5 separate regions of the Homo sapiens genome follow, and regions 2, 3, 4 and 5 are each linked to region 1. Evidence: fine-mapped expression QTL. A gene starts in region 1. Each other region holds a variant in brackets. All regions are shown on one strand. Distances are from middle to middle.

Region 1 (5,096 bases):
GCCTTCCAAGTAGCTGGCACCACAGGCATGCACAATCATCCCCTGCTAATTTAAAAAAATTGTTTATAGAGATGAGGTTTCACTTTTTTTTTTTTTTTTTTTTTTTTTTTTTTTTTTGGAGACAGACTCTCGCTCTGTTGCCCAGGCTGGAGTGCAGTGGTGCGATCTTGGCTCTCTGCAAGCTCCGCCTCCCGGGTTCACACCATTCTCCGCCTCAGCCTCCCAAGTAGCTGGGACTACAGGTGCCTGCCACCACACCCAGCTAATTTTTTGTATTATTATTATTTTTTTTAGTAGAGACGGGGTTTCACCGTGTTAGCCAGGATGGTCTCGATCTCCCGACCTCATGATCCGCCCGCCTCGGCCTCCCAAAGTGCTGGGAGAGGTCTCACTCTTTTGCTCAGGCAGGTCTCAAACTCCTGGGCTCAAGTGATCCTCCCACCTCAGTCTGCCAAAATGCCGGGATATGAGCCACCACACCCAGCCCCTGGTAACAAATTTTTTTTTTTTGAGACGGAGTTTCGCTTTGTCCCCCAGGCTGGAGTGCAGTGGTGTGATCTTGGCTCACTGCAACCTCTGCTTCCCAGGTTCAAGTGATTCTCCTTCTTCAGCTTCCCACATAGCTGGGATTACAGGCGCGCACCACCAAGCCTAGCTAATTTTTGTATTTTTAGTAGAGACGGGGTTTCACCATGTTGGCCAGGCTGGTCTCGAATTCCTGACCTCAGGTGATCCGCCCGCGTCAGCCTCCCAAAGTGCTGGGATTACAGGTGTGAGCCACAGCGCCTGGCCTGCCTGATAACATTTTAAAGCAAAAATATTGACAACTTCCAAGTGGAGAGTGAGGACTCTCCACGTAGGTTATGAGGGGTTGGGAGGCTAATTTTGAGGTTTGAGATCTTGAAGCTAGAGAGGTTGCTAATGATGTTCAGGCGCAAGTTGTGGCTGTGACGTACATGACTGAAGCAGGATGAAAACATTCACTGGCATTGACAAATTCAAAGCCAAGGGTGTTAGAAAAGTCATCACACGGGCACCACATGACTGAAGCAGGATGAAAGCGTTCACTGGCATTAAGAAGTTCAAAGACAAGGGTGTTAGAAAAGTCATCACACCGGCACCACTGGGCATGACAGCAGTGGGCAGGGAGGCAGCAATTCAATTGCTAAAATTACTAAAGAAAACGGGAGACTGCTCTGGAAGCTAAGTGAAAGAGATATGAAACATATGTAATTACTGTAGTCCCCTAAAAACCATAGAACATAGAACATATACAAACATAACTATTGCTTTCAGATAATTTTCAAGTCCATCTCTCCATGCTACAAGTCATAGCGCAGTCTACCTCTAGAGAGAATACATATTGTAATAAATTACCCAGTTAAGACTTGGAATACTTTGCAAATCCAATAGAAGATAGAAAAGTTAGTTTCCACGATATTGCAATAAGATGCTAATAGTATTAATACGAACATATTAATTCTGGAGTATACATGGAGTATTAATACCATGCTTAATATTTAACGTGTTTTATTTTGATTACAGAATCAATGGAATACTTTTGTTTTTTGAGACAGAGTTTCGCTCTTGTTGCCCAGGCTGGAGTGCAATGGCGTGATCTCGGCTCACTGCAACCTCCGCCTCCCGGGCTCAAGCAATTCTCCTGCCTCAGCCTCCCGAGTAGCTGGGATTACAGGCACCCGCCACCATGCCCAGCTAATTTTTTGTATTTTTAGTAAAGACGGGGTTTCACTATTTTGGCCAGGCTGGTCTCGAATTCCTGACCTCAGGCGATCCACCCGCCTTGGCCTCCCAAAGTGCTGGGATTACAGGCGTGAGTCATAGCTCCTGGCCCTACTTTTCTTTTTAAATTTTTTGTTTGTTTATTTTTCTATATAGAGACGAGGTCTCACTGTGTTGCCCAGCCTGGTATCGAACCTCTGGGCTCAAGCGATCCTCCCGCTTCGGCCTCCCGAAGTACTGGGATTACAAGCGTGAGCCACCGCGCCCTGCCCAGTGGAATACTTTCAACGGTGCTTCTGCATTGACTTCCCATCTTCCAACCCATCCACAAACTGCAGCCAAAATGATGTTACTACAGTAACAACTTGGAGAAAGCAGTGTGGCTTAATCTGGAAGGAGCAGAAGCTGTGGAGTCCAAAGGACCCGTGTTCCTATCCTTGTTGTGCCACTTGACACGTTTAGCACAAGGGTCCCCACAGTGTTAGTTCACCGTCTCCAGCAATCACTATGACTCCCTGGAGGGCTGTCAAACGAAACAAAGGCGCAAACTGAGACAATTCCATTGTTTACGTAACTTTCGCCAAATCGGCTCCTTCCTACGAAATATCCAGCTCATAGAGCAGGCTGAGATGCTTTGTTGCTTTAATTCTCTTTAAGAGTCACAGCTGTCCATTTTCCACGTGCGGCTGAAGAATGGATTTCAGAGCGCTCTCCCTCCGGCAGTGTTCACCTAGTAACCCCTTCCGGATAAGGACCTGCAGCCCGGGCGCGACCCGGAAAGGGAATCCGCCCTTTTCGCCTCCTTCGCGCCAATCGCCTGGAGTTGGCGTTTCCGCAGCCGGGACACAGCCCACCCTCTAAGAGCCGCGGAGTCGGGGACGGTAGAAGGGGCCGCGCGTGCGCAGTGGCGTCCGCTGTGCTTCCGGTGCGCCGGGCGCGGACGCGGGCACGCACACACGCAAGCACGCCTCCACTTAACTCGCGCCGCCGCGGCAGCTCGAGTCCACCAGCAGCGCCGTCCGCTTGACCGAGATGCTGCGGGCCTGTCAGTTATCGGGTGTGACCGCCGCCGCCCAGGTGAGCACTGGGGCTCCCGGAGGCGCGTGAGGAGGCTGAACTAGAACCGTCAGCGAAAAACGGGGGAGCCTTGGTCGCTGCCTAGCCTCCAGGACAAAGGCGAGCCTCAGGGCCACCCTCGTCGGGAGAGGCCCGGGCGGGCAGCTAGGCAGCCACCAGGGAGTTCGCCGGACTGGGATGACTTGAGGTTATTGCAGCAGCGGGGTGGGGTGTGGAGAGTAGCGGGAGGCGCGGCTTCGTGGGCATGTAGTCCAATCAGGGCCGCGCTGCCCCCGTCCAGGACCAATCCTGGCTGCTGGCGTCTGGGTCGCCGGTTGGGCGCGCGATAGGTTTTCAGTGCTGAAGGTCGACGGGCGAGAACTACAGTTCCCGTCAGGACGAGCGGAGCGGCGGCTTGTTGCATCCTTAATAAGGAGGTGCCTGGACTTCTAGCGAGAGTCCACATTTTAGGGGTCAAGGTTGTAATTATCTGGGAGGGAGTGCCTTTCTTTTCGCAGCTGAGAACACTTCTGAGTTATTCTTAATCCAAACAAAAGCGAAAGATTTTCATTTGTGGAGCTGAAACTCCTGGTCTTCAAGGAAAGACAGGAGTCATGACCTTGTGGCTCATTTCTGAGATTAGGGCAGGGATCTGTGTCTCCAGGCGCTGGGACTACTTTGACATTCAAGGAGCCTAAATACCCAGTTACTTCTAGTTTTGCGTAATTGCCAAAGTTACTTTCTAAAATTGAAAATTAAAAAGCCTGTTTCCACTGCTCATGATTTTCAGGAAGTTGATATTTTGGCAAAATGTAGATAGCAAACCAAGTACTGTGACTCAAGCAGTAATTGAACAGAATCCCTAGGAATAGTGAGTTAGAGATCATAAAAGTCAAGCTTTGTTTTTTCAAGTTCGCTTCTCTTCCTATTTGCTGCTAGGTAACAGAAGCAGCCCCTTCCATAGGAAAGTGGAACGAACCTGTGTTAGTTTTCTATTGCTGCGTAACAAATACCACAAATTTAGCAGCTTAAAACAACACCCATGAATGACCTTACGGGTTCTGTAGGATAGAAGTCTGGGCACGGATGATCTGTGTTCTCCGCTCCAGGTCACATAAGGCTGCAAAGTATTAGCCATGCTGTGGTTCTCATTTGGAGATCAGGGTCCTCTTCCAGGCTCATGCAGTTTGTTGGCAGAATTCAGTCCCTTGCAGTTACAGGACTGAAGTACTTCTTTTCTTGCTGCCTCTTGCCAGCCACTGCTCCCAGCTTCTACAGCCTGCCTACAGTTCCTTGCCTCAAGGCCTCTAGAGGCCATTCATAACATTGATGTTTGCTTTCGTGCAGGCTACCAGGAGCTTGCCTCTCTGACTTCCAAATTTCTTTTACTTTGGTCTTTCCTCTCTAGACCCAGATTTAAAAGGCTTATGTGATTAGACCAGGCCCACCTGGATGACCTCCTTTTCAGTTAATTCAGAGTCAACTTTTTGGGATCCCATTTGGGAATTAAGAAAACTAATTAAAACTTGGTAATAAAAAATGAACCCTTTTATAGCTCTGAATCAAGATGTCTAAGCTTCTTGAAATTGCTGTCTTGTAAAATTCTTTGGTTTATTCTCACCATCTCCTTAATTCTGTAGCATTTGACATTGCTGCTTTATGAGGCTCTTTGTACTTTTGGCTTCTCTCAAGTAATATTTTGGGTCCCATCTCTCTTGTTTTCCTTTACTGAGTCTGCTTCTGCTTTGTACCTCGAAATATACACCTTCTCATCTCTTCCTGTCTCTTTATAGACTCTCTAATTTGAGATTACATCAACTCTCAGAACTTTAATCCCCAAGCAGGTGACTCTCTAGCCTCGTCGTATTTGATTGTATCAACGTATCCAGAATATCTCACTTGTCAAGATCCTTTCCACTTTATTAAACCCCATCTTTCTTTTTTTTTTTTTGGATACGGAGTCTCACTTTGTCACCCAGGCTGGAGTGCAGTGGCACAGTCATGGCTCACTGCAGCCTTGACCTCCTGAGCGCAAGCAATCCTCTTACCTCAGCCTCCTGAGTAGCTGGGACCACAGGCATGTGCCACCATCCCTGGCTAATTTTTTAAAAAATTTTTGTAGAGACGGAGTCTCTCTGTGTTGGCCAGGCTGGTCTCGAACTCCTGGGCTCAAATGATCCTCCCACTTCTGCCTCCCAAAATGCTGGGAATATAGGCACGAGCCACCGTGCCCAGCCAACCCCATCTTCTTAAATGTCTTACTGCTTTTACTGTTCCCTCCTAGAGTCCATTCTTTA
Region 2 (5,105 bases), 72 kb after region 1:
ATGAAAAATAAATGAATAAAATGGTCCAGAATTCTAGCTCTATACTCTCGGTCAAGCAACTTTTTCTTCTTATGTGCCAGACACAGCTGAGTCCCAGGGCTGCGGAAAGGGTAGTGAACAGGTAACTGCTACACAGTGACTGCCATACACATGCTCATAAATGCTGTCTCCAGCCCATGTACTTCTGTTTCTTTTTCTTTTTTTTTTTTTTGAGACGGAGTCTTGCTCTGTTGCCCAGGCTGGAGTGCAGTGGTGCGATCTCTGCTCACAGCAACCTCCGCCTCCCGGGTTCAATAGATTCTCTTGCCTCAGCTTCCCAAGTAGCTGGGATTACAGGCGTGCACCACCACGCCCAGCTAATTGTTTGTACTTTTAGTAGAGACGGGTTTCACCATGTTGGCCAGGCTGGTCTCCAACTCCTGGCCTCAGGTGATCTGCCCGCCTCGGCCTCCCAAAGTGCTGGTATTACAGGTTTGAGCCACCACACCTGGCCAGCCCATGTATTTCTGGTAAAGAGTATTTAAGCCCTATTAAAAAATAAACTGAGGATTCCTCCTTACCAGTATTTTACTCCATTTTTCCTCAAATTTCTCATTTATCGCACATACTGTTGCTTCAATCAATGCATTAAATGTGTATACATCAGCTGTAAAATAATAAAATGATAAAATTTGGGGTTGAAGATTAATCCCTAAATGGCTGAGTTTAAGGCAAAGCAGTCATTCCTATGTGTCCCTTGACTAATCACATGTCCACAAAACTGGAAAACTACTCTCCTCTCTGGATCTCTACTCTTGCTTCAATCATCTACGCCTCAGGAAAAGGTAAAGTGTAGGCCAATGACTGAGGCACGATCCAAAGCCTTCACACAGACAATTAAAAGAAGGAAATGGAGAAAGGGACAGAGGGGAGTTCTCAAACTCACCATGGAGTCTGTTGTTTAGTAACTCAGTGTACAAGTTTAATGCCTGCTCATAAGCTCGGTGCTGGAAAAGGAAAAATTAAGCATCATCAAATTCATTTACTTAAGAAGTCCTTGCACATTTCTGTCCTAGAGTTTGGTAATATAGCTCAGGCTCAATAGATCAGGCTCCTGTTCTCATGAAGCTCATACTCTAGTGCAGTGGGATTTTCTATCCACTGGTAATGCCTAAACATATTTTTATTTGTCACAACTGAAAGTGGGGGAGGAGTACACTACTCACATCCAGTGGGTAGAAGCCAGGGAGCTACTAACATCCTACAATGCACAGGACAGACCCCACAACAAATTACCTGACCCAAAATGTTAGTAGTTCTGAGGCTGAAACACCCTGATCGGTGGAAATGAAAGACAAAAATAAATAAAACAAATGTACCTTCACCATTCCTCGGATCATTGTGCAATAGGAATGTTCATTTTTCTCTGGCATTAGAGAAAAGATTCTCTCAGCGTTGTTTTTTGCTCTAGACACAAGAGAGTAAATGTGAACCCAGGCAATAAGAAATACCAATGAGAGCTACCACCATTTACTGACGGTTTATTATGTTCTAGGCAATGTGCCAAGTACTTTCTATACATTATCTCAATTCTTACAGGGTATTATGGTTATTATCATTTTGAAAATGGGGAAAATCAAGACTTAACGATCTTAATGTGTTGTCAGGGCTTCGCAGGTTAAGTGGCAGAATTACAATTGAAAATGAAAAGTTTATAAACAAGTATATAAATATCTGTGCTATTAAAAACAAGAAGCAACTGTATGACAAAGTCCCTAGTAAAGTTTCCTCACCTTTCTTCAATCTTCAGATACTACTTCCCAGAGGCAAAACGGTTTCTTTTGGATCCTTCTGGTCATATTCTAGCATATGTACTTTTAACTCTTCTCTCATTCCATAACCTCCACCTCCTGGGTTTAAGTGATTCTCCTGCCTCCACCTCTCGAGTAGCTGGAATTACAGGCACGTGCCACCACGCCTAGCTAATTGTTGTATTTTTAGTAGAGATGAGGTTTCACCATGTTGGCCAGGCTGGTCTCAAACCCCTGACCTCAAGTGATCCACCTGCCTCGGCCTCCCACGGCACCAGGATTACAGGTGTGAGGCACTGCGTCCAGCCTACCCCAAGGAATTTAATCTTTCATCCTATCAAATTCATCACTTCAATAACAATTTTAGATAATCATGGTAGCTTTCCCTCTCCAGACATTCACATGAAGTGTCTTCCTTTTAGACACCCAGCTAATTCTCCAATATAATTAAGTTATTACCTTTCATTCAAACTGCTGTGTATGTCTACATGTTGTCAGTGGTCTTAATTTAGCAGTACACTCTAGTGTCCATGATATTTTTAGTAAACAAAAGTATTAAATCTTTCAGAATTAGAGGTATATATTCCAAGGTAGCACTGTTAATGAAACTACCAAAGGAACCATACCATATGAAAGTTATGCTGAGTTAAACAGATGAGGGAAAAAAAAGGGTCAAAGTCTCAACAGATTCTTGTGTTGTTGAATGGAGATAAAGACCTTATTGAA[A/G]AACGGTCTAAATGTGTATGAATACAAATAGTGAAATTTATATTGCACAATAAAAATCAATTATTTTAGAACATCACAAGAAAACATCTTCACAGGGTGATGGGGCATATTCCATGCACTGTAAGACACTGTAATTCAAGGTTCTAATTACGTGTGACATACCGCCATGTAACTCCAAACTGATGACCAGCTTTCCTCCTAGATGTCTCATCATTTTCCTCTTCCTGAAATGAATAATCATCAAAAGAAATAAAAGTTAAGGCAATGGAATGCATTTCCCAGTCAGACTACTCAAAATCAGAAAGGCAAAGGGAACTCAGAAAAATAAAGGAAACATAGATCCAGCAGAAGGCAAAGAGGAAGCCCAGTTACGCTTACACCTATACAGTTAATTTCTTAAGTGCAAATCAGATGAAAGGCCAAGTTGACTCTCAAAGCAACAAGTGACAGCGTGGAGACAAGATGAAGCCAGTTCCCTGTATGGCCTGGTCCTCAGACAGAAAGAGGAAAACCAAACAACACAGCCTATTTGCTCAGAGACTACATCTGGCTTGATCCATACAGATAAACTGTCATAATTAGGGTGAAAGCAAGATAAACAACATATAGTTAATGCCTAACACTCACCCAAGCAAACTAAGACTTCTTTTTTTTTTTTTTTTTAAGACAGAGTCTCGCTCTCTCGCCCAGGTTGGAATGCAGTGGCGTGGTCTTGGCTCACTGCAACCTCCACCTCCTGGGTTCAAGGAATTCTCCTGCCTCAGCCTCCGGAGTAGCTGGGACTACAGGCGCGTGCCACCACGCCCAGCTAATTTTTTGTATTTTTTTTAGTAGGGACGGGATTTCACCATGTTAGCCAGGATGGTCTCGATCTCCTGACCTCATGATCCACCCGCCTCGGCCTCCCAAAGTGCTGGGATTACAAGTATGAGCCACTGCACCTGGCAAGACTTCTTACAAGAATAAATCTTGTCTTTATTTATAAACCAAGGTCTGGGATGAGGCTGACGTAGAGCAATACAGGCTTGGTTGGCATTGCAGAGGTCAGTGTTGGCTCTGTAGCCTGCTGCCTCAAGAGCTGGGGCTGGAGAGGCAGAGGGCCAACCAGAGCAGGGCTTCAGGAAGTGATACTCTGGAAAGCAAGGTTTAACTGCAACCTACTGCCTATGCACTTTTAAAAATGTAAAGTTCTCTACATAAATAATCCACATTTGGCCAGGTGCAGTGGTCAGTAATCCCAAAACTTTAGGAGACTGAAGGATCACCTGAGCCCCAGAGTTGAAGACACCATCCTGGGCACTACAGCAAGACCCTATGTCTACCCGCCCTCCCCACCCCAAAAAAAACTAGCCAGACATGGTGGCCCACACTTGTGGTCCCAGCTATTTGGGAGAATGAGGAAGGAGGAACACTTGAGCTCAGGAGTTAAAGGCTGCAGTAAGCTATGATAGCATCACTGCACTCCACCCTAGGTGACAGAGTGAGACCCTGTCTCTGAGGGGGAAACAAGAAATCCACATTTAGTTGGGCAAAGAGTAGAAAAGATAGAAACGAAGAAAAACACCAATAATCCCATCACCCAGAAACACTTTTTAAATGATTTTTTTGTATGCATTTGTAAAAACATTTTTACAAAAATGGAATATATACTGCTGATAGCCTGCTTCCCACTTATTGGATGAATGTTTCCATACCCAAACACATCTACTCTAATGTGCTCAATGGCCACACAACTTTTATCATCATTTGATCATCTACTGTTGGACATCTAGATTGTTTTCAACATTTTTGCAAGTATAAATACCTCCTCATGAAAAATGTCACATGAGCATCTCTATTTGACTGATCCAAAGGATTTCTTGAGACCTAGTTCTAGAAGTAAAATTCGCGAGTCGAGAGAGAGGCTATGACTCAACTTACAGGCGGGCCCCGGCACACTACTGTTCTGTCTCCAGCCTAGTGTGTTCTCTCCTCTAAGTCCACGTATGAATTTTTGAGGGGGCCCAGGCCACGGAGTCTTTCCCTGGCCAGAATACATCATGTCATTACTCTAAGTGGCACAGGCCAGCCCAAACATTTCTGATCAACGCTTTGCCTTAATATGAAGTAGGTGAGGACAACATATTGTTAAAAAGTAAACTAGGACAGAAGTAACTGTTTAAAATCTCTCTTCCTCCTATACCACTTTTTATCAAGGCTATCGTACCACACATCTCAGTACAAATCTCTACTACCCTGACACATGGCAAAACAACCCATCTTATTTTTAAAAGCAATTTCTTCAAAAAGAAGCTTAAGGAAAAAAAAAAATCAAGGCCAACAGTTATTACCAATGCTTCTGACTGTCCAGTTTGTTGAAAATGGTAATCAGTTGAGGGCTCCTGGTCACCATAGTAACACAATAAATCCAAGAGACTATTTGTTGTTTCAAGAGACACAGTGGTTCCTGTGGGTAAGAGACAGAAAGATAAAGAAACCTTGAAACAATGAAGAACTAAAGCCTGTTAGGTTAAAATGTGTCATTTTTTTATATTAGCGGTGGTCTTCAGGGCTACACACTTAATGTTGTCCACTACTTTATGCACTCAA
Region 3 (5,102 bases), 32 kb before region 1:
GACACAAGCCAAAGCTGGATGGTCAGGTTCGAGGGAGGGATTCCTGCTTTGGCTAGGAAGCGGGCTTAGGTGGCCCTGGCGTCCCTTTGCCTCTAAGAGTCTGTGTTGCCATTTTAGAGGTGAGCCCAGTGGAGGAAGCAGGCTCAGAGAGGTTGTGCACTGGGCTGAGGCCCCCAGGCCCAGAATCCAGGCCTCCTGCCTAGACCTCCCCTGGTGAATTATTCAGGGCAGCCTCAGAACTGGGAATGCAAGAAGCTGGCAGGGTCTGCAGGGAGATGGCAGTGTCTTCTGGGCCTGGAGTATCTTCCCAGCCCAGCATCAGGTAGAAAAGCATTTGGGATGATTTGCTTTGGCACTGGCTCTGCCACTCTCCATGAGCAGAGGTGATGACGTCCCCTGCCATGCCCCAGGGAGGCAGTGGGGAGTGTTCTGGCTGTCCCAGGCTGAGAGGACCAGCTGTGCTGCATTATGCCCCAGCCCTCCTCACTGCTGGCCCCCTTGGCCTCCGCACCTATGACCACAGGGGGCAAAGAGGAAAGGTGCAACCCAGCAGGGAGGCCAAGGACAGTGTAGTGCTCTTTCCAGCTGTTCTGGAGCCTAAAATAAAAGCCATCTCAAAAAGGAAGACAGGAGCTGGGTGTAGTGGTTCACGCCTGTAATCCCAGCACTTTGGGAGGCTGAGGAGGGTGGATCACCAGAGGTCGGGAGTTCAAGACCAGCCTGACCAACATGGAGAAACCCCGTCTCTACTAAAAACACAAAATTAGCCAGGCGTGGTGGTGCATGCCTGTAATCCCAGCTACTCATGGAGTAGCTGAGGCAGGAGAATCGCTTGAATCGGGGAGGCGGAGGTTGCAGTGAGATGAGATTGCACCATTGCACTCCAGTCTGGGCAACAAGAGTGAAACTCCATCTTTAAAAAAAAAAAAAAAAAAAAAAAAAAAGGAAGACAGGTGAAAGATGGCCTGGGGCGTGGATATGGGGCAGAATTTCCTGGGTCAGAGGCTCTTGGGCTATCATACCCTGAAGTAAGGTCAACATGCCTAGGAGGAAGTCTGGCAGAGGAAGCCAATTTATACCGGGCTGGTGTACTCTCCCCAGCTCAGCCCCCAGTGTGGGCCTCAGATGCCAGGCCAGATCAGGTAGCAGAAAGGGCCCCAGAAAAGGGGAAGAGGCTAGACTTCATCCTGGCTGGGTGATGCCGGGCCTGTGCAGACACAGCAAATGCAGCACAGCAAGGCATGCTCCTTCCTCCTGAGCCTCAATTCAGCCTCAGAACTTCTCTCAGAACAACCCAGGCAGTCGCTACCATAGATTTGGCCTTGGCACAGAGGACAGACCTGATTCCCTCAGGCTTTCTTCTTTGTAAAAAAGACCGAATAGTCCCTATTCAGCCTATGTCTTAGGGTTGTGAGGAGAGCAAACCAGAGAATTTGCAAACCCTGGACAGGTGGCAGGGGTTGAAGACAACCTGGAGAGAGGTGGGAGCTGCACCTCGTGGAATTCTCTGCAGCTGCTGGAAGCAACAGATTAAGGGTGCACACAGTGGAACTTGAAAGCATGATGCCAGGTGAAGAAAAGTGCAAAACAGAATGAGATTTTATCTAACAATTTATGTAAAAAATATATGCCTATCATGCAAAGTAACAATACGGAGTTTATATGAAGAACATGTTCAAACAAAAAGTTGCACATTAAAATATTAAAAGTGACACTCCTTGAGGAGGAAGGAGAATGTGAGTGGGGTGTGGGAATAAAAGTCATGTAAAGGCACATAAAAAGGGTTGCCAGGCGCGGTGACTCACGCCTGTAATCCCAGCACTTTGGGAGGCCAAGGCGGGTGGATCACCTGAGGTAGAGAGTTTGAGACCAGCCTGACCAACACAGAGAAACCCTGTCTCTACTAAAAATACAAAATTAGCTGGGCGTGAAGGCGGGTGCCTGTAATCCCAGCTACTCGGGAGGCTGAGGCTGGAGAATTGCTTGAACCCGGGAGGCAGAGGTTGCGGTGAGCTGAGATCATGCCATTGCACTCCAGCCTGGGCAACAAGAGTGAAACTCTGTCTCATTAAAAAAAAAAAAAAAAGTGAAGGGGATCCCATGAACCAGTGTGGACCATTTGCTGTGAGCCAAGAAGGGACATCCATGTGACCTCCTGCATCTTGAGAAAAGG[G/A]AGGAAGATGCACACAAACGAGGAAGGGAGGAAGGGGCACAAAGACTGTCCCTGCACGGTCACTCAGCGCTGCAAGCTCCTGGCAGGCAGACAAGGGTTCTGTGCTTCCCTCTGTAAATGCCTACCCAACATACTCACCACATGCCTGGCACACAGAGACCTCTGTATGTGCAGTGAGGACACAGGGTCTAGGCGTTGGAGAAGGGGAAGGAGAGTTCTTTCCTGTTGCTTTCAGCACCCAGGATGGGGCTGGGCAGTGTACTTGGCCTGACCCTCTCTCTTGCCTGGAGTTTTCCTCTTTGCTTAAAGGGTCAGGGCAGGCAGGGACTGACATGGCCCTCCCTGCAGAATGAGCTGGAAGGTGTGTAGTCAGATACCATATGCTGAATGCCTAGCACTGGACACCAGGAAGTGTACAAGAAATGTTGAAAGAATGATCCTGGCCTTCCATGGACTTGGAGTCACTCAGTGAGCATGTATTTAGTGAGCACCTACTCTATTGCCAAGGCCCAGATGTGCACCAAGACCAATGGCGTGTACAAGGCAGCAGCCAGTTAGGCCTTTGCAAATGCCCAGATGCGAAGCACTTTGGGGTTCAGAGGTAAGTCTGGGGAGGTTTCCTGGAGGACATTCTGAACTGGAAAGCAAAGAGAGGAGGAGGCTTTGGGCAGGGGTGCTTGGAGTTATTTTCCAGAGGGAACTTTGACTCTGTCTCCGGCCTTCCCTAGGGCTGCAGGGTGCAAGGACTGACTTTGTGTGCCAGGTGAGGGTATCTTCTGCACCTGAGCAGAAACTGAATCTGAGATGACTCTTTCCCCACTTTGGTGTCTCTACAGAGACCCACCTTCCTGGGATCCCTATATTGTACACACTGGGATCCCCACACCTCTCCAGGGCCTCCCTGTTTGCCCGGGGCTGGTTCCTGTCCAGTGGGGGATGTCACTGATGGTGCCCCTACCCCATTCCCACAGTGTGTACCTGCTGCTCCACCTGCAGGACCTGGAAAGGTGAGTAAGCAGCCAGCCTCTCCGCAGCGTGCTGGACTCTCACTCGGAAAGAGCTTCTAACCAGGAGTGGGCACCTGACCCTGGGGCTCCCTTTCAGCTGCATGGTCATAGGGAGGGGTCAGGAGGTTAACCCTTTATAACAGCAAACACAGTAGCTTACAGTTCCTGTGGGCTAGAAATCTGGGAGCAGCTTAACTGGGTGGTTCTAGCTCAGGGTCTCTCAAGAGGCTGCAGTCAAGATGTCAGCCTGGGCTGAGTTATCGGAGGGCTTGACGAAACTGGAGGGTCCACTTTCAAGATGGCACTCTTATGGCTGTTGGCTGGGCCTCTCCAAGGCTGCTTAAGAGTCCTTACAACGTGGCAGGTGGCCTGGCCTAGAGTGAGCCATTCAAGAGATAGAGGGCAGGCAGGAAGCCAGGGTACCTTTTCTGTCCTAGGTTTTGAAGTCACACTCATCACTTCTGCCTTATTCTATTTGTTGGAAGCAAGTCATTAAGCACAGCCCACATTCAAGGGGAGGAGAATTAATCTCCACCTCTTGAAGGGAGGAGTATCAAAGAATGTGTGGAGATATCTTAAAACCACCACAGGGTCACTGGGCGGGGTGGCTCATGCCTGTAATCCCAGAACTTTGGGAGGCAGAAGTGGGAGGATTTCTTGAGCCCAGGAGTTCGAGACCAACCTGGGCAATATAGCAAGAATTAATCTCTACAATTAAAAAAAAAAAAAAGCCAGGTGTGCTGGTGTGCACCTGTAGTCCCAACTACTTGAGAGGCTGAGGCAGGAGAATTGCTTGAGCCTGGGAAATCAAGGTTGCAGTGAGCCATGATCGTGCCATTGCACTCAAGCTGGGTGACAGAGCAAGACCCTGTCTCAAAAAAAAAAAAAAAAAAAGAAAAGAAAAAGCCACAACAGGGTCATACTTCCTTGTGCTCCAGGTAAGGACACAGGAACTTCAGAGGACTAAGGTCCTCTGAAATGATGAAGTCCTGAAGTTCCAGGGGTTTCTGGTCCTGGGGCAGCCAAGGGAGCCCTGTTCCTGCTTTGCCACTTACTTGCTGTGCAACTTTGCGTGAATCACCTAACCGCTGTGAGCTTCAGTTCCTCCTCTTAAAACGGAGATGAGATCCCTGCTTCCCGGCCTCACTGTGCTGTTGTGAAAGTGGCTGTGAAAGGGCCATAATAATCCTGGGAAGGATGATGAGGATGATGATGATGATGATGGTGGTGGTGGTGGTGGTGATGATGGTGGTGGTGGTGGTGGTGGTGGTGGTGGTGGTGGTGGTGATAGCCTGGAGCATCCAGGAGACCCCAGGGAGAGTGGAGGTCTCCCGGTTCTGGACAGAGACTCCTGTTGCTGCCCTCCCAGCGTGTGAGTGATGGCTTGTTGGAGCCACAGCCACCTGGTGGTTGCCATGACCTGCTTCTCCAGTTGCCTAACCTTAAGTAGACACATTAGGGACTAGTGAGGGTCCTGGACTAATCCAGTGCCCCTTTCACACTGCCTGGCTCCCCATAGAGAAGCTGCCTTAGGCTTGGAAGGCAAGAGGGGCCGTGCCTGGCCTGCAGCCTGCTGGCTGGTGTCAGGGGAGGAAGGAAGGCACGCAAGGTGCCTAATATAGCTTTTGCTCCAGCCCTGGTGCCGCGGAGGCATGACATGCCCCTCCCACATCGGCAGTGAGCAAGACAGGAAACTGCATTATGTGACGTGTCCTGTTTTCCCTGCATTGCTTTATTTTTAAGGCTCTCAGTGCTCAGCTTTTTAAGTCCTTTATAGAAGAGCTGGGGATTAGGACAGGCGCAGTGGCTCACACCTGTAATCCCAGCACTTTGGGAGACCGAGGCAGGCAGATCACTTGAGGTCGGGAGTTCGAGACCAGCCTGACGAACATGGAGAAACCCCATCTCTACTAAAAATATAA
Region 4 (5,104 bases), 25 kb after region 1:
TGACTTTCTTTAATTCAGCAGAAATTTACTGTCTTTTCTGTGCTAGACATTCTTGTAAGTACTGGGGAAACAGCCATGAACAAAAACAGTTAAAAAATTTTTTCAGCTAATATTTCTTGATTGGGTGCGGAGAGGAAATAAACAAGTAAAACGTATAGGATGTCAGACATTGTGGGAGGGAATACTGCAGTTTTAAATGGAATGTGTAAGGAATACCTTACCTGGAAGGGGTTATCTGAGCAAAGATTAGAAAGAGATAAGGGGGGTAAGTCATGTAAAAGGGTGGTGGGGAAAAGCATCCCAGGCAGCAGGATTAGCTGGTGTAGAGGCTTGATATATTCAAACAAAGGGCAAATGAGGCTAGAGTGAATTGAGTAAGGGGAGAACAGGAGCAAATGAGGTCAGAGAGGGAGCAAAAAGTTTATTGTGGCAGTCCTTGGAAGCCATTGTAAGAATTTTATTTTAGGCCAGGTGCATGGGCTCATGCCTGTAATCCCGCACTTTGGGAAACCAAGGCGGGAGGATCACCTAAGCCCAGGAGTTTGAAAGTAGCCTGGGCAACTTAGCAAGATCCTGTTTCTATAAAAAATTAAAAATTAGCTGGGGATGGCGGTGCATGCCTGCAGTCCCAGCACTCGGGAGGGAGGACCACTTGAGCCCAGGAGGTTGAGGCTGCAGTGAGCTATGATTGCACCCCTACACTCCAGCCTGGGTGACAGGGCAAGACTCTGTCTCAAACAAAAAAAAACATTGTTTCATATGCTGGGTGGGATGGGAAGAGAATGCTGAGCCAGGGGATTGATAATTGACTGTTACTTTAAAACCAAGGCCGGGCACAGTGGCTCACACCTGTAATCCCAGCACTTTGGGAGGCCGAGGAGGGAGGATCACTTGAGCCTAGCAGTTTGAGACCAGCCTGGGCAAGAGAGGGGAGACCCTGTCTCTACAAAAAAATGTAAAAATCAGCCAGGTGTGGTGGTATACACGTATAGTCCCAGCTGTGTGCCAGAGGCTGAGGTGGGAGTATTGCTTGTTCCTGGGAGGTCGAGGTTGCAGTGAGCCATGATAGTGCCACTATTCTCCAGCCTGGGCAACAGAGTGAGACCTTGTCTCAAAAAAAAAAAAAAAAAAAAAAAATATACTACACACACAAAAAATTGATTGAGTGATTGATAGAGATGGGATCTTGCTGTGTTGGCCAGGTTGGTCTTGGCCTCCCAAAGTGTGCAAAAAATATATATATATATATGTATTTTAACTCAGTTCTGTTCTTGATCACTGTGACCTTTCATCTTTTTGTTTAAAACTGTAATCTTTTTCCTGCTCACACGTCTTCTACCACTCTTCAAAGCAATTAAAAAATATTCTTTGTTTAGTTGCTTTCTTTTGTCTGTCTTCATCATTAACAGGCTTTTTCCTTTGTTACTCTTTTTCCATGTGTAAATGTCCCCTTCTTGTGTGTTAATATTATTATTATAAGCCTTGCCTGGAATAATGATGGTTAAAATGCAGGTGGATGCAGACAAGACTTCTTTCTTTTGTTCGTTCCCAACCATTGTCCATTTTGTGTGAGTTTATGTATGCAGTGGACAGTGCCCCTGTTTGTGTGTTATTCAAACATGTGGCAGTACAAATATTTGTGTCTCTAAGGAGTCAGATGTGAAGTGGGTGGTGATGGTGGTAGTAAATTTCTGTGTGTTTCTCTGTTAACCCAGGAAAGTATAAATACCATGAGTAACATATATTTATAGCACCTACAGAAGCGGCTCAAATTATTTCTGCAGCAGGTGATACCCTGTCGGTCCCAGCCCCTGCAGTTCAGCCTGAGGAATCTTTAAAAACTGATCACCCTGAAATTGGTGAAGGAAAACCCACACCTGCACTTTCAGGTAATTTAATTATTTCTATTTGTTCTTTTATACATGATACACTCATCAGAACTATTTAATGCCTAGGCAACACGTAGACACTAAGTATACATTTACACTAGGTTTAGGTCTTCAGAGTTTCTTAGGAAATTTTTAAAATTTAAATGTCCGAATGTATCTTTTTAAACAAGAAGATTAAAGCCTGATTCCTATTTCTTCATTTTGGAATCATTAAGAGTAATGATATGGTTTTAGAATTCTTAACACAAAAATGCCCTGCATTGATATAACTGGCCAGTACAAACGATGCTTTTTTTATATCCCTGTTAGCTATTAAAATTCTATGCTGAAATTTGATTTCCTCTTATTTACTTTTGCTGCAAGAAGAAGCATCCTCATCTTCTATAAGGGAGCGACCACCTGAAGAAGTTGCAGCTCGCCTTGCACAACAGGAAAAACAAGAACAAGTTAAAATTGAGTGTATGTAAACCAGACAGCTTCTTAAGGATTTTGGGTCATCTCCCAGTTGCTCTCTTCTTAAACTATCAGCACAAGTTTGTCATCTATCACCTAGTTGTGGTTTCTTTTGTTGCTGCGGTTGTTTTTTAGTGGCATTGCTTTATTCATCACCTTCATTTCATCTAAACTTCTTTTACCTAAGTGACAAAGGCTATTCTTAGTGTATAGTTGGTGAAAACTCCAAATAATACTAAAGATTATGTTAGCGCTAAAGATTCTTTATACTCTGGGAAACAGAAATTGATTATTTATGTTTTAGCAGCTTGCCTAAAAGTCCTTTATTTATTTTTTTGAGATAGGCTCTTTTCTGTCACCCAGACTGGAGTGCGGTGGCACTGTCATGGCTCACTGCAGCCTCAACCTCCCAGGCCAAAGCCATCCTCCCACCTCAGCCTCCTCTGTAGCTGGGACTACAGGCGTGTACCACCATACCCAGCTAATTTTTTAAAAATTTTTTATAGACACAGGCATCTCACTATGTTGCCTAGACTGGTCTCGTACTCCTGGGCTCAAGTGATCCTCCCACCTTGAACTCCCAAAGTGCTGGGATTACAGGCCTGAGCCCTTGTACCCAGCCCTAAGAGTCTTTTATTAATAATTGTTAATTTATACTTGTAAATAATTGTTTATTAATAATTGTAAATTTATTTGTTGGAGTCAGAATGGCTTACACTGCCTTATCATCTAGCCTCTGGACTCTCTAGTAGTGCTTTTATCTGACACTGGTGGGGCATGGAATGTT[C/A]TACACATCGCTGGTTTCCAGCTAACAAGCATATTCCTTTTTAAGTTTCAGTTTTATGGTTTTTTTGTTTGTTTGTTTTTAAGAGATGGGCTCTTACTGTGTTGGTCAGGGTAGTGTTGGACTCTTGGCCTCAAGAAATCCTCCCACCTTGGCCTCCCAAAGTGCTGGGATTACAGGCATGAGCTACCACACCTGGCCAAGTTTTTTTTATCATTATTATTATTTTTGCTGTCCTCGGTAGGTCAGGATTCTTAAATTTTTTGATGGTTTAAAAAAGATAATAGATATTTATCAATTTATTTTTCTGTCTTAAAGCACATGTAACATAATTTTTTGTACTGTGCTATAATATGTTGATGTCTCTGGAGGTCGTGGGATGTAGCTTTTTGCTGGACAGAGAGTTCAGTACTCATGGCAGCTGTTTATAGTTTTTTGATCTCCTTGTCATTTGTTTTGCTCCTGTTTCCCTTGTAATGTGCTGGTTCTGCCCTACCCTGAGGAACCAAGTTTCTTAGAATAGCATAGGTGTCATTCTGTGCCTATGGCATTAGTTTTCCTACTTGGATTTGGATTTTCGTTTTTGATTTTTTGTATTCTTCTGATTGTGTTACAAATATTTGTGAATATTTAATAAATGACTTCTAACTAAGTGAAATATTTCATTTTTCCTACTTCTTTTTTCTTTTAGTCCTGTTTTTTCTTCACTTTTCACTTTTCTCTCTTTATCACTTGGGCACCTTGAAATTAAGTTATAAACGTAAGATGGAGATGTCTGCTGTTCCAGCTGTTCTTTTCCTTGCCTGGTTCCTCTCATCTTTCATTTTGGGCAAAGTGAAAATTTTCAGAATTTTATCTGTCACCTCTTAATTCCCCCTCAAACTTGACTTTAAAAATATACACATATGCATTTGCATGTGAAATATTTATCAAGGATCAAAGGACAGTGACTAAACCTCTGAAGAGGGCTGGAAGCAGCAGGTGCCTCCCAGCAGCCCACTTTCTGTGGCCTCCATAAAGTGGTTCACAACTGCCTGTACTTGATGTCCACTGTTCACTCACGCATGTCATGGGATCCAAATACCACGGTTTCTCTCCCTTGCCCCTTTCTCTTGTTGTATCCCCTGCTCTCATTTCACTTCTATCACTTCTGTCAATTTCTTTTTATTTTCTCCTTATTAGTTTTCCTCTTATCTTTCTTGCAGAGGTACCATTTGTAGTTCCTCAGATTCCATTTGTTCATTGCTAGTTTATGCTTCTTTTCCTCAAAATCATCTTTTTTTCTCGCTTGTCAAATACATTTTTTATTTTTTGTCATGTGATATCATTTATTTAATTAATTTGTTTTGAGACAGAGTCTCACTCTGTCACCTAGGCTGGAGTGCAGTGGTGCAATATCGGCTCACTACAACCTCCAACTCCCAGGTTCAAGCGATTTTCCTGCCTCAGCCTCCTGAGTAGCTGGGACTATAGGCACCCACCACCATGTCTGGATAATTTTTGTATTTTTAGTAGAGACGGGGTTTCACAATGTTGGCCAGCCTGGTCTCGAACTCCTGACCTCAGGTGATACACCTGCCTCGGCCTCCCAAAGTGCTGGGATTACAGGCGTGAGCCACTGCGCCGGCCCATTTATTATTAAATTAGTATTCTTACTAGCCGCCTTTCTTCAAATGACCATTTATTTTTGCATTTTAGTAAATTATCTAAAATTGTCATTTGCTTTACTTTTTGGTATTCCCGAAACAGCATATAGAAATGTGATCTTAATAGATGGAAGCCTCTTGAACATTGGTGTCTGCTATTTCTTGAGTCCTTTTATGGAAGAACACTGTCCATTTCAAGTTGCCTTTGGGTTTTGTTTTGTATTTTTTGACCTGTTTTCTTATTTGTCTTTTTCTTTCTCTTGTCTGTTTTCTTGTATCTTGTCAACATAAGTGTTTTGCTATGAGTATTCCTTCTTGCCAAGGGGATGAAA
Region 5 (5,105 bases), 700 kb after region 1:
ACTAAACTTAAAATATGTAAGCAGGCAGCTTTAGGCTAAACTTAATTGAACAATTTCTTCCTTTTAGTCAACCTCTTAAAATGAAGAGGTTGACCAAACTTTATGTATTGCTGTCACTTTGTCACCATAGCAAATAGACTTACTTGGTTTCAAATCCCACTGAGAAATAGTGGAACACTGTGTTTTATAAGGTGGAAACGAGGAATTTAGATTCCCTTTTTGTAAAGGGTAGAGCAGAGACGACTTCCTTATTATACTATAATCCCCTCTTTTCTGGAGAAAAAAAATCTGGTCTCTTTGGGGATCCATATGCTTCCTTAAAGTTTTAGTTTGATTGTGCTGCATTTAGCATGAGTTGACTCCATTTGGTTAGATCCAATCTAGTCTGTTGGGGCCTAGTGCATGAGTTCAGTCCAAAACAATGGCCTCCCATAATTTTGTTGAACAATTCTCCCCTTTTGATCATGTTGTCACTTAAGTGAGAGTGTGACCAAAACATCGCTAATTGCTACTCTCAGTTATGATCATTTTGGGTTTCTGGTCTCAACATGTCTTTCATAGGTTATAGTGTCCTCATGATTATGTATTTCTTTGAGATTTTGTCATCCCAGTTGAAGAGAGACCATTTGACATTCTATGCATGGCTGCATTAAACATTTACAATTTTTGAGAGGATATATTTCACCAGGGAGATGACTATTATGACTACCAGAAGGACAATACCAAGAGTTTGGAGTATGCTGCTTAGCCAGGGTCCCCATGAACTGAACCAACTAAAATTAAATAGATTAAAGAATAAGCTTGATAAATGGTCTACGAGTTTCGACCAAGCAGCCAGTTTTTTAATCCCCTGCAAATGAATCTCTATAGTACCTGACATATTCATCCATGTGCAACAAGAAGTGTCAGCAATTGGCTGGGCATGGTGGCTTACACCTATAACCCAGCACTTTGGGAGGCCCAGGCAAGAGGATTGTTTGAGCCCAGGAGTTCGAAACCAGCTCGGGCAACGTAGTGAGATCCTGTCTCTCTCTCTCTCCTCTCTCTCTCTCTCTCTCTCTCTCTCTCTCTCTCTCTCTCTCTCTCTGTGTGTGTGTGTGTGTGTGTGTATGTATATATATATATATATATGTAGTCAGCAACTGCACAGATTCTTCTCTGTTCAGCCAGTAAGTAGCCTAGAGCAGTTCTATTATGTAGCACAACTTTAGCAAAAAGTTTAAAGAAGTCTTTAGCATAGTGTTTATAGTTGAATCTGCTATAGAGTCTACTATGAGGGACAAATTTCTAATCATTGCCTCATTTACCCCAAATCATGGAAAAAGCAACCTAACGAATTATGCCCATTCAGAAGGGTGAAGGCCTCCTGGCAACGTTTGCTTCAACCTATAATGTAGGTTAAAAGAAATAGACCAATGTTCTGTTTCTGACTGATTATGGAGCTACAAAGGTACCGTGAAAATTCCTCACCCACTTTGGCCCTTCATCTTCTATCCATCAAGGCATAAGGTTGCTCATGCATAAGGTTAGCGGTGAAATCCTCCACAAATAAAAGTATACCCCATGGGTCCACACAAGACTTTTTCTAGTTCTAGTCTTCATAAAGGCATAAGCGAGGAAAAAATTAAGAGAGGTAAGAGTCTCATGATGGCAAAGAAGTCTTGATCTGTCATCTTGAGAAAGCTTTCCACATCTAGGATTCCATCTGCTTCTGGTGAGAAACTTCCCTGGTTAGCTTTATCTTGAGGTCTCCAACAGATATACAGTTCTAAGAGTCTGGAGGGGCCCTTCTGAGTTGTGAGATTACAGACCCAAGGTTCAAAGTCCTAAAGTTTTGCTGCAGTGTGGGTGGCAAGGTGTGTTGTTTCTAGAAGACCCAATCTCTATGTTCTTGATCATGAAGGATTTAATTGTCCTCAGTCAGTGGATCATGAAAACCTTCCTTACCTGGTGAAAATGCACTTTGGCATAATGCATTAAAGCCACAGTTAGCCATATCAAAGTTTAGGAGCAGAAGATACATGAGTTTTTGTTTTGTTTTGTTTTGTTTGTGTGTGTGTGTGGTTTTATTGTGTGTGTGACAGAGTCTCGCTCTGTCACCCAGGCTGGAGTGCAGTGGCTCAGTCTTAGCTCACTGCAACCTCCACATCCCGGGTTCACGGGATTCTCCTGCCTCAGCCTCTCGAGCAGCTGGGATTACAGACATGCACCACCATGCCTGGCTAATTTTTGTATTTTTGTAGAGACGGGGTTTCACCATGTTAGCCAGACTGGCTTGGAACTCCTGACCTCAGGTGATCCACCCGCCTCGGCCTCCCAAAGTGCTGGGGTTACAGGCGTGAGCCACAGCGCCTAGTCATGAGTTTCTATTATTAGGGGCATAGGCCTTCCAGTGACTGTTTTATAAAGGGTCAACTGATGTTTTCTGCTGAAAGTGGATCTAATTGTCATCAATCTGCAATACCTTTGACCAAGACAATCCAGTTGATTTACTTAGCTTTGCCTAGTACTATTTTGTCTGTAGTTTCTTATTTAACTGTTTTACAATTTGTTCAATGAAACAAATACATTTATCACTGGAGATTTCTCCAGGAATGCCCCCTGAAAAAAACACACTTCCTAATAAACTTTTAGCTACTGTTATATCATCAGACTTCTTTCGTGGGAAAGCTTCTATACAACCAGAAAATATGCATTCCGAATGACAATTGAATGAACTCCCTCTATAAATGTTCAAATGGCCAATCAGGTAGCAGAAGTGTACCTGAAGTTTTTATTGTTTCCCCAGGATTATGGATTTGACAAACTAAGCATTGGTCAAAAACCATTTTAGCAATTTAAAACGGTCACACCACACACACACACACACACACACACACA[T/CACACAT]TTTCTATTTGGATCATTTAATCTCTACCATAATGTGTCATGGAGTACAGAGCTTCTAAGAGTGGAAGCTTTAAGGATTCAGGAAGGATGAGGCAGCTGTCCAGGCTCTCCATGAGTTTATGCTTAACATTGGATGTATATCTTCTTCAATACCAATTTTGTTTTTCCAATTCAGGTGAATAGTACTGTTTAATAACTGGGTTGGCCTGGTGCAGTGGCTCACACCTGTAATCCCAGCACTTTGGGAGGCCAAGACAGATGGATCTTTGAGTTCACAGATCAAGACCAGCCTGGGCAACATGGTGAAACCCCATCTCTACAAAAAATACAAAAACCAGCCAGGTGTGGTGGTGCATGTCTGTAGTCTCAGCTACTTGCGGGGCTTAGGTGGGGGATGGGGAAGGGGTGGCGAAGGAGGTTACAGTGAAACGAGATTGCACCACTGCACTCCAGCCTGGGTGATAGAGCCAGACCTTGTCTCAAAATAAATAAATAGGTAAAAACTGGGTTATCACAGGTAATCTGACTTGGACCATGGAGTTCATTCAAACTGCATATCCTAACAATTTCAGTACTGGCTGATTTAGCATGAAAATCTGGCAATGGCCGGTCATGGTGGCTCACACCTGTAATCCCATCACTTTGGGAATCTGAGGCGGGCAGATCACTTGAGTCCAGGAGTTCAAGACCAGCATGGGCAACATGGTAAAATCCTGTCTCTACAAAAAAATACAAAAATTAGCTGGGCATGGTGGCACATGCCTGTCGTCCCAGCTACTTAGGAAGCAGAGGTTTCAATGAGCCGAGATCATGCTATTGCACTCCAGCCTGGGTGACAGAATGAGACTCTGTCTTTAAAAAAAAAAAGATGTGCTTGTCAGGGTCCTTTATATTCTTTCCATGAACCTCCTTGAAGACACAACACTCTATGATTTTACTTGCTCGTAAAGAGCTTTCAGAAAATGCATCAGAATTAAGTAATTAACTGTGGAAACAATTTAAAATCGTCATAGTTAAAGACCCAATTGACAAGGAAATTTGGTTATTTCTGTGGACTGTAATAATTTAACATAATAGCCATAACTGTGACTTATACCAAGACATATCAGAATTTTAGGAATCTCATACAGTCTTATTTTGTTTTTGTTTGTTTGTTTGTTTGTTTTTGAGACTAAGTTTTGCTCTTGTTGCCCAGGCTGGAGTGCAATGGTGCGATCTTGGCTCACTGAAACCTCCATCTCCCAGGTTCAAGCTATTCTCCTGCCTCAGCCTCCCTAGTAGCTGGGATTACAGGTGCCCGCCACCATGCTCAGCTACTTTTTTTTGTATTTTTAGTAGAGATGGGTTTTCACCATGTTGGCAAGTCTGGTCTCAAACTCCTGACCTCTGGCAATCCACCCACCTCAGCCTCCCAAAGTGCTGGGATTACAGGCATGAGCCACCACACCATGCCTTGTTTTTTTTGTTTTTTTTTTGTTTGTTTGAGACAGGATCTTGCTCTGTCGCCCACACTGGAGTGCAGTGGCATGATCATGGCTCAGCCTTGACCTCCTGGGCTCAGGCAATCCCCCTGCCTTAGCCTTCAGAGTAGCTGGGACCACAGGGCATGCCAACATACTTGGCTAAATTTTTTATTTTTGTAGAGAAGAGATTCCTATGTTGCCCAGTCTGATTTCAATCTCCTGGGCTCAAGGATCCTCTTGCCTTCGCCTCCCAAAGTGCTGGGATTACAGGCATGAGCCACTGTGCCCAGCCAATTTTGGAACATACATTAATAACATATCCAAAATGTAATTTGAAAGTTAAACATCAGGCCAGGCACGGTGGCTCACACCTGTAATCCCAGCACTTTGGGAGGCTGAGGAAGGCGGATCACCTGAGGTCGGGAGTTCGAGACCAGCCTGACCAACATGGAGAAACCCCATCTCTACTAAAAATACAAAATTAGCCAGGTGTGGTGGTGCATGCCTGTAATCCCAGCCACTCAGGAGGCTGAGGCAGGAGAATTGCTTGAACTTGGGAGGTGGAGGTTGCAGGGAGCCGAGATTGTGTCATTGCACTCCAGCCTGGGCAACAAGAGCAAAACTCAATCTCAAAAAAGCAGAAAAGCAAAACAACAAAAAAAGAAAGTTAAACATCATTTCTTATTTGACAATGCTTCCCATGTCACTTAAAATATTAAATAAGCCTGCTTATTGTCTCTCTTTTGGATGCTGCAGGGGCCT

Which allele goes with the higher level. Alleles are on the strand shown, and positions count from the first base shown. SD is a standard deviation of normalised expression in the study named. Not every link is listed here.
In carriers of allele A in region 3, the expression in visceral fat of the gene that starts at base 2,696 in region 1 tends to be lower than with G alone (small effect, 0.20 SD a copy in GTEx).

The links. PIP is the estimated chance that this variant, and not a neighbour inherited with it, causes the effect.
Region 2: its variant is fine-mapped to the expression of IMMT in whole blood (TOPMed, PIP above 0.99).
Region 3: its variant is fine-mapped to the expression of IMMT in visceral fat (GTEx, PIP 0.96).
Region 4: its variant is fine-mapped to the expression of IMMT in whole blood (INTERVAL, PIP 0.99).
Region 5: its variant is fine-mapped to the expression of IMMT in macrophages (Alasoo 2018, PIP 0.95).

The regions. Positions count from the first base shown.
Region 1 is chr2:86,193,062-86,198,157 of GRCh38, reverse strand. IMMT (inner membrane mitochondrial protein) reads left to right here and starts at 2,696. Exons shown (of 15, transcript NM_006839.3): 1 at 2,696-2,820. The coding sequence starts at 2,776. MIR4779 (microRNA 4779) reads left to right here and starts at 5,050; the gene lies at 5,050-5,096. RefSeq lists enhancers at 2,706-2,825, 2,846-3,025, 3,146-3,195.
Region 2 is chr2:86,121,336-86,126,440 of GRCh38, reverse strand. PTCD3 (pentatricopeptide repeat domain 3) reads right to left here. Exons shown (of 24, transcript NM_017952.6): 8 at 4,847-4,962; 9 at 2,679-2,740; 10 at 1,359-1,446; 11 at 926-986; 12 at 561-646. Among named protein-coding and RNA genes, the nearest start is that of SNORD94, 12 kb to the left of the region's middle. The variant A/G (reference allele first, on the strand shown) is at 2,517.
Region 3 is chr2:86,225,441-86,230,542 of GRCh38, reverse strand. It overlaps REEP1 (receptor accessory protein 1), which reads left to right. Exons shown (of 9, transcript NM_001371279.1): 7 at 3,145-3,180. Among named protein-coding and RNA genes, the nearest start is that of MRPL35, 29 kb to the right of the region's middle. The variant G/A (reference allele first, on the strand shown) is at 2,174.
Region 4 is chr2:86,167,993-86,173,096 of GRCh38, reverse strand. It overlaps IMMT (inner membrane mitochondrial protein), which reads left to right. Exons shown (of 15, transcript NM_006839.3): 5 at 1,752-1,889; 6 at 2,253-2,348. Among named protein-coding and RNA genes, the nearest start is that of MIR4779, 23 kb to the left of the region's middle. The variant C/A (reference allele first, on the strand shown) is at 3,130.
Region 5 is chr2:85,493,325-85,498,429 of GRCh38, reverse strand. No RefSeq gene overlaps it. Among named protein-coding and RNA genes, the nearest start is that of PARTICL, 43 kb to the left of the region's middle. The variant T/CACACAT (reference allele first, on the strand shown) is at 2,881.